Linked DNA regions of Homo sapiens: region 2 is reported to be linked to region 1. Evidence: microRNA targets listed by miRTarBase, many of them from high-throughput screens and not tested one by one. Region 1 holds a microRNA gene; the other region holds the end of a gene's coding sequence. Distances are between the middles of the regions.

Region 1 (3,104 bases):
AGCCACTGTTGAGGTTCAGGGTGGCGAGATCTGGCGGGGGAGGGTAGGTGAGGGCCGCGGAGGGGCCTCCGGCGTTCCCCTCCCCCCCGCCCTGAAGCCCGAAGCCCCCACTCACTGCTGCAGAGATCCCCGAAGACGTAGTAGCACTGCTCGGAGAAGGTGATCTTGTTGACCGTGTGCCGCAGGAAGCCGTGCTTCAGCAAGCTGCTGGCGTACTTCCGGGCCTCCCGCCGCTCCTTGAAGCCCTCCACGTGTGTGTACAGCCAGTCCACCACGTCCGCCCCTGGCCGGCACCAGCGGTCAGCCCGCAGCCTCGAGGCAAGCAGCCCTGCCCCTGGCACTATCCGCCCGCGGGGACGGCCACTCACCGATGACGGCATTGGCGATGGTGATCTTGAGCCACATGCGGTCGCGGATCTCCAGTCCCGAGTCTGGCAGCTGCATGACCCGGACGACGGCGCTCATGTCACTCTTCACCGTCAGCGGCGCCTCTTCCAGCTCTGCAAAGCACAGACAGCCCCGCTTCAGCCCCAGCATCTGAAGGCGGGGGACTCAGGGCCCTGCACCCCCAGGGGAGCCTCTGGGCAGAGCCTGCGCCAGGGCGCAAGCTGGACGGTGCGTGACAGCAGGGCCCCGGCCCACTGCAGGATGCACCCCCGTGAGGCTGGGGCGTGAGCAGGGGGGTTGGACATTTAGTCTCCCACTTCTACAGACACTTTTCATCAGGATCCTAGGCACAAACTGGGCTGACACCCCACCCTGCAGACCAGGAAGTAATGAGAACAGGGCAGGCCCCTTCCCCTCCCCGCATGCCCCACCCGAGAGCGCAGGCTGTTAGTCGTGTTAATGGCAGGAAGCAGAATGGAGACCTGGCCCCTGCCTCTGACGCCGTGGGTGCTCCCCGCATAGGGGCCCTACGTACATCCCCTGTTCCCAACACACAGACCATGAGCAGGATGGGCTGCACAAGGTGGGCACGGGTGCCTGTGCACACGTCTGTGCAGGGAGTTGGGGACAGGCAACACACACGTGTCACAGCCCCATGACGGCCACAGGCGGCCATGCTGGAGGCTGGCAGAGACGCCCCCTCCAAGCCTCGGTTTCTGCTGGGGCCCTCAGGAGCTGCCACTTACGTGGAGCACCAGGCACGGAGCTGGTTAGTGAGGAGGAGCTGGTGCGCGTGACGGCGCTGGAGCAGGGACTCGTACCGTAGCGGGGCAGGGCTCCTGTCAGTGCCGCCGTGTGGGACAGCCAGGCGGCGGGGTCGATGGGCCGCACCGGGTCAGCTGGGTGGCCGCCACGTGGCGATGACAGGCGGACAGATGGACAGGGTGGGAGGGCAGGGTGCAGGGCACAGAGGAGAGAGGCCTTCAGGCTAGGTAGGCGCCCCCTCCCCATCCCGCCCCGTGTGCCCCGAGGGCCACTCACCCCGTGGGACGGTGAAGTAGCTTCGGGGCGTTGGGTCCCAGCACTTGGCCACAGTGAGGCTGATGGGCCTGCAGGAACGGTGGTCACACAGCAAGGCCCCCATGGTCCCACCTCCCTGCCTGGCCCCTCCCGCTCCAGCGCCCCCAGCCCTCACCCCGTCTGGGAAACGATCTCCCGCAGCACCCGCACGGCATCGTCATTGCTCATGTTCTCAAAGTTCACGTCATTCACCTGCAGGGGTGGGGATTAGGGTGGTGCAGGCAGGATGTGCAGCTCAGTCCACCGCCCCCGCAGACCCACCCACAGCCGCATGTCCCCCAGCAGCCCCCGCAGACCCACCCGCAGCCGCATGTCCCCCAGCAGCCCCTACAGACCCACCCGCAGCCGCACGTCACCCCAAAGTCCCCACGGACCCACCCGCAGCTACATGTCACCCCGCAGCCCCCACAGACACACCTGCAGCAACATGTCGCCGGGCTCGATGCGGCCGTCAGCGGCCACAGCCCCGCCCTTCATGATGGAGCCAATGTAGATGCCGCCGTCTCCACGGTCGTTGCTCTGCCCCACGATGCTGATGCCCAGAAAGTGATGTCTTTCTGCAGGAAGAGCCATGAGCCGCGGCCAAGCCCCTGCCCCTGCCCCCAACCCTCGCCCCGAGGCCTCACCCATGTTGAGCGTGACAGTGACGATGTTGAGGGACATGGTGGAGTCGGTTATGCTGCTGAAGGAGGAGGCCTATGGAGGAGAGGGGGCGTGTGTAAAAGGCACGGGGCTGCCCGACACTGACTTCGCCTCCCCAGCCCCGCCCTGCTCCACCCGGCTGCCTACCCGGTCCGCCTGCCGAAGGCGCTGCTTCCTCCGCCGGCGTTTGTGCTTCCGGATGAGTCTGGATGAGGTGCTCTGCTCCGTGGAGCTGCTGAGCCTGGGAACAGACTGTCAGAGCTCAGAGGAGCTGGAGACATGGGTAGGGGGGTGGGAACCCGCTCCCCCAATACTGAGTGGGAATCGGGGGTCTAGGCCAGGCTTGTTCCAAAGCAGGCTCAGTGCCTGACGTCCACGCCCCAGGCCCTGCACACGTGATATGCATATGAGCACACACGAAAATCCCAGAGACAGGCAAACTGGGCACAGACACATGTAGCCAGATCCACTACTGACACACCTGCACACATGCACACCTGCACACACATGCACACCTGCACACACGCACCCCTGCACAAGGCACACATGCACACACCTGCACACACACCTGCACACACGCAACCCTGCACACATGCACCCCTGCGCACAGGCACACATGCACACCCCTGCACACGCACGCATGAACACACGCACACCTGCACACGCATGCACACCTGCACACACGCACCCCTGCACACTACACACCTGCACAGGCACACATGCACACCTGCATACTCACCTGCACACGCACCCCTGCACAATGCACCCCTGCACACACGCACCCCTGCACACACATGCACACCTGCACACACGCACCCCTGCACACAGGCACACCTGCACACACCTGCACACGCACGCCTGCACATGCACACCTGCACGCACACCTTCACATACACCTGTACAAGCACACCTGCACACACGCACATCTGCACACGCACACCTGCACACACGCACACGCACACATGCACACACCTGCGCACACGCGTGCATTGTGA
Region 2 (3,082 bases), 7.7 Mb from region 1:
AAAACTAAATACATGTCACTGATCCAAACACCAAAAACATATAAAGTCATTTAATTCTCACAATGGACATGTGAGACATTTACTATTAGTGCCATTTAACAGAAGAGAAGACTGAGATACAAAAAAGCCAAGTAACTTTCCAAGTTGCACAACTAATGTGGCAGGACCAAGGTTTGAACCCAGGGAGCAGACATCCAGAACCATGAACTTCATAGCCTCCCCTGTGTTAGAGGTGCTGCAGTTTCTTGACTTCTGATATTCTGACCTGGCCTCTCCTCAGCTCTGAGAGCCTTCATCTTTGGTTGTTTCTGTGCCCCTTCCAGGCTGCAGATCCTTGCTGCAGAAGGCCAAGGATGGTTCAACCACAGTGTTCTGTTTACTTCCTCTGGGCCCGCTTGTGAGTGGTTTAGCTTGTTGCTGGTGGAATCTCCATTACATACCCACAAAAAGTGCTCCCAAGTCCCACTGCTCTCTCTCCCGGCCACCAGCCTCTGCCACCCATCTATGAGAAGACATCACTTCTTGCTACAGGCCATTCAGCACTTTCAAGGTTTTATCCATATTTTTGCACATACACTCACACTCACACCCTTTATTCATATCTCTAAGAAAAACCTCCAGCTCTCTATATTTTTGGGGAGAGACCTGTGTTAGACCATTTTCATGCTGCTGATAAAGATGTATCAGAGACTGGGTAAATTGCAAAGAAAAAGAGATTTAATGGACTCGCCATTCCACATGGCTGGGGAGGCCTCACAATCATGCCAGAAAGCAAAAGGCACGTCTTACCTGGTGGCAGGCAAGAGAGAATGAGAACCAAGCAAAAGGTTTTACCCCTTACAGAACCATCAGATCTCATGAGGCTGATTCACTACCATGAGAACAGTATGGGGGAAATTGCCCCCATGATTCAATTATCTCCCACAGGGTCCCTCCCAGAACACATGGGAATTATGGGAGCTACAATTCAAGATGAGATTTGGGTGGGGACACAGCCAAACCATATCAAGACCCTGTTCCTTTTCCCTTCCTCCCCCACCACAGTCTCAAGATTTTAAGACTCCTCAAGATTTCATTACATATGTGAGGACATTTGGAAGCTTCCTCAATCTTACATGTATTTATTTATTTGAGACAAGGTCTCATTCTGTCATGCAGGCTGGTGTGCAGTGATGCAATCATGACTCAGGGCAGCCTTGACCTCCCAGGCTCAAGCGATCCTCCCATTTCAGCCTCCCAAATAGCTGGGACCCCAAAGGCGTGTCACCATGCCCAATTAAAAAAATTTTTTTTGAGATGGGATCTCACTGTGTTGCCCAGGCTGGAGTATAGGGTGCAATTTCAGCTCACTGCAACCTCTACTTCCCAGGCTTAAGCAATCCTCCCACCTCAGCCTCCAGAGGCCCTCTTCGAGATGCTGGGGATTCAGGCATAAACAAAACTGACCAAGCCCCTGCCCTCAAGGAACTGACACTCGTGCAGTCAAACTGCCTGAAGTGGCCGGGCGCAGTGGCTCACACCTGTAATCCCAGCACTTTGAGGGGCCTAGGTGGGCGGATCATGAGGTCAGGAGATTGAGACTATCCTGGCCAACACAGTGAAACCCAGTCTCTACTAAAAATACAAAAAAGTTAGCCGGGCGTGGTGGCAGGCGCCTGTAGTCCCAGCTACTCAGGAGGCTGAGGCAGGAGAATGGTGTGAACCCGGGAGGTGGAGTTTGCAGTGAGCTGAGATCGCACCACTGCACTCCAGCCTGGGTGACAGAGCGAGACTCCGTCTTAAAAAAAAAAAAAAAAGCAAAAATAAAAACAAAAAAAACACTGCCTGAATGAGCAGGGAACTTCCTCCTGCCTTCTACTTGCTCAAAGAACAGCAGCACGTCTTGTTGAAAAGTGATCAGGTTCATTTTATTGACTACACAGAAGCAATTCCATTTTCCACTAACAAAATAATTTAGGATGAAGAATTCTGACTCAGTGTCTCCACAGGAACCTGTTCCTCAGCTTTCTGGATGTCATTGTTTCTGACATCACACCTTCCTAGACAGGTATTTCTGGAAAAGGATCTGGTAAGAGGATGAATTTGGCTCTAAACAAATGCCCATGGCCCCGGAAGACCTGTCGGGGCCACCAAGTTAGTTTCTCTGGCAAAATTTGATTCCTTCCATCTCACCACTATAGTAACTGTTGTTGTTATGTTACCAGGAGCCACACAAAGGTTGACCCATCAAGGTGGAGCCACGTTACCAGGAGCCACACGAAGGCTGAACCAGCAAAGTGGAGGACCAGCTGTTTAATTGACTCGGGTCTGGTGACAGGCCAACATGGAGAGAGACAGCCCAGCTTCAAGAACAGCAAGGCAGCCCTTTGCACAGTTCCCACTGGGGTGGGGAGGCTGGAGATGAGGACTGCATTCCACATCAGAGTTGTTTTATTTCTGGATATTCACAGACAGCTAGAAGTCAGAAAAATAAGCCAAAGTGGGAAGCCCCTGGCAGACCAGCTCCACTGGCTTCCTCTCCAGAGTCACTGTTCCGAAGTGACAGGTGGAAGCTCTTTCAGTTCCTCCTTTTCCGGGTACACTTCAGACACCTTATTCATCTTGGTGAAAATCTGGTTGATCTCTATGAACGTCTTGGCCTTGGTCTCCGGGACAATCAAGAAGATGTAGATGGTGGTGAGGAGGCAGATCACGGCGAAGACAATGAAGCTGTACGGGCCGAGGCCCTCCTGCGGGAAGAGGGGCAGGTGACACGTGTGGGACGTGGTTTGCCCAGGGGCTCGCACTGTACTGCATGGGGATCTGGTGGTGAGCGTGGGCCCCGGGCCCCACTCACCTGGATGAACGGGAAGATCAAGCCCACGGTGAAGTTGGAGAGCCAGTGCACACTGCCCCCCACCATGAAGGCAGATGGCCGAGAGGACTGCAGGAAGATCTCAGTGATGAGCAGCGCGGGTATGGGACCTGTAGGGGGAGGAGAGCAGCCTCCCTGAAGGCAGAGCGGGCCCGAGCATCCCAGGCCTGGCCATGCAGACCCACCAGGTAGCTGGCCCCAGGACAGAGGCGTCTCCAGGACTCTTGG

Evidence for each region. Region 1 holds the annotated microRNA hsa-miR-6808-5p (CAGGCAGGGAGGUGGGACCAUG, at 1,529-1,550, opposite strand). A microRNA usually pairs through its seed, bases 2 to 8, with sites in the 3' UTR of a target mRNA and lowers its output. Matches are read on the target gene's strand: a 7mer-m8 pairs with bases 2 to 8, a 7mer-A1 pairs with bases 2 to 7 and ends in A, and an 8mer does both.
Region 2: miRTarBase lists SLC2A5 as a target of hsa-miR-6808-5p. Seed matches in the 3' UTR shown: 7mer-m8 at 1,683-1,689.

The regions. Positions count from the first base shown.
Region 1 is chr1:1,338,154-1,341,257 of GRCh38, forward strand. It overlaps MIR6808 (microRNA 6808), which reads right to left and starts at 1,555; the gene lies at 1,497-1,555. It overlaps DVL1 (dishevelled segment polarity protein 1), which reads right to left. Exons shown (of 15, transcript NM_001330311.2): 6 at 2,257-2,350; 7 at 2,094-2,163; 8 at 1,885-2,024; 9 at 1,583-1,659; 10 at 1,429-1,496; 11 at 1,134-1,286; 12 at 369-500; 13 at 116-283; 14 at 1-30.
Region 2 is chr1:9,035,061-9,038,142 of GRCh38, forward strand. SLC2A5 (solute carrier family 2 member 5) reads right to left here. Exons shown (of 12, transcript NM_003039.3): 11 at 2,837-2,964; 12 at 46-2,729. The coding sequence ends at 2,526. Among named protein-coding and RNA genes, the nearest start is that of SLC2A7, 10 kb to the left of the region's middle. RefSeq lists enhancers at 2,135-2,204, 2,645-2,724.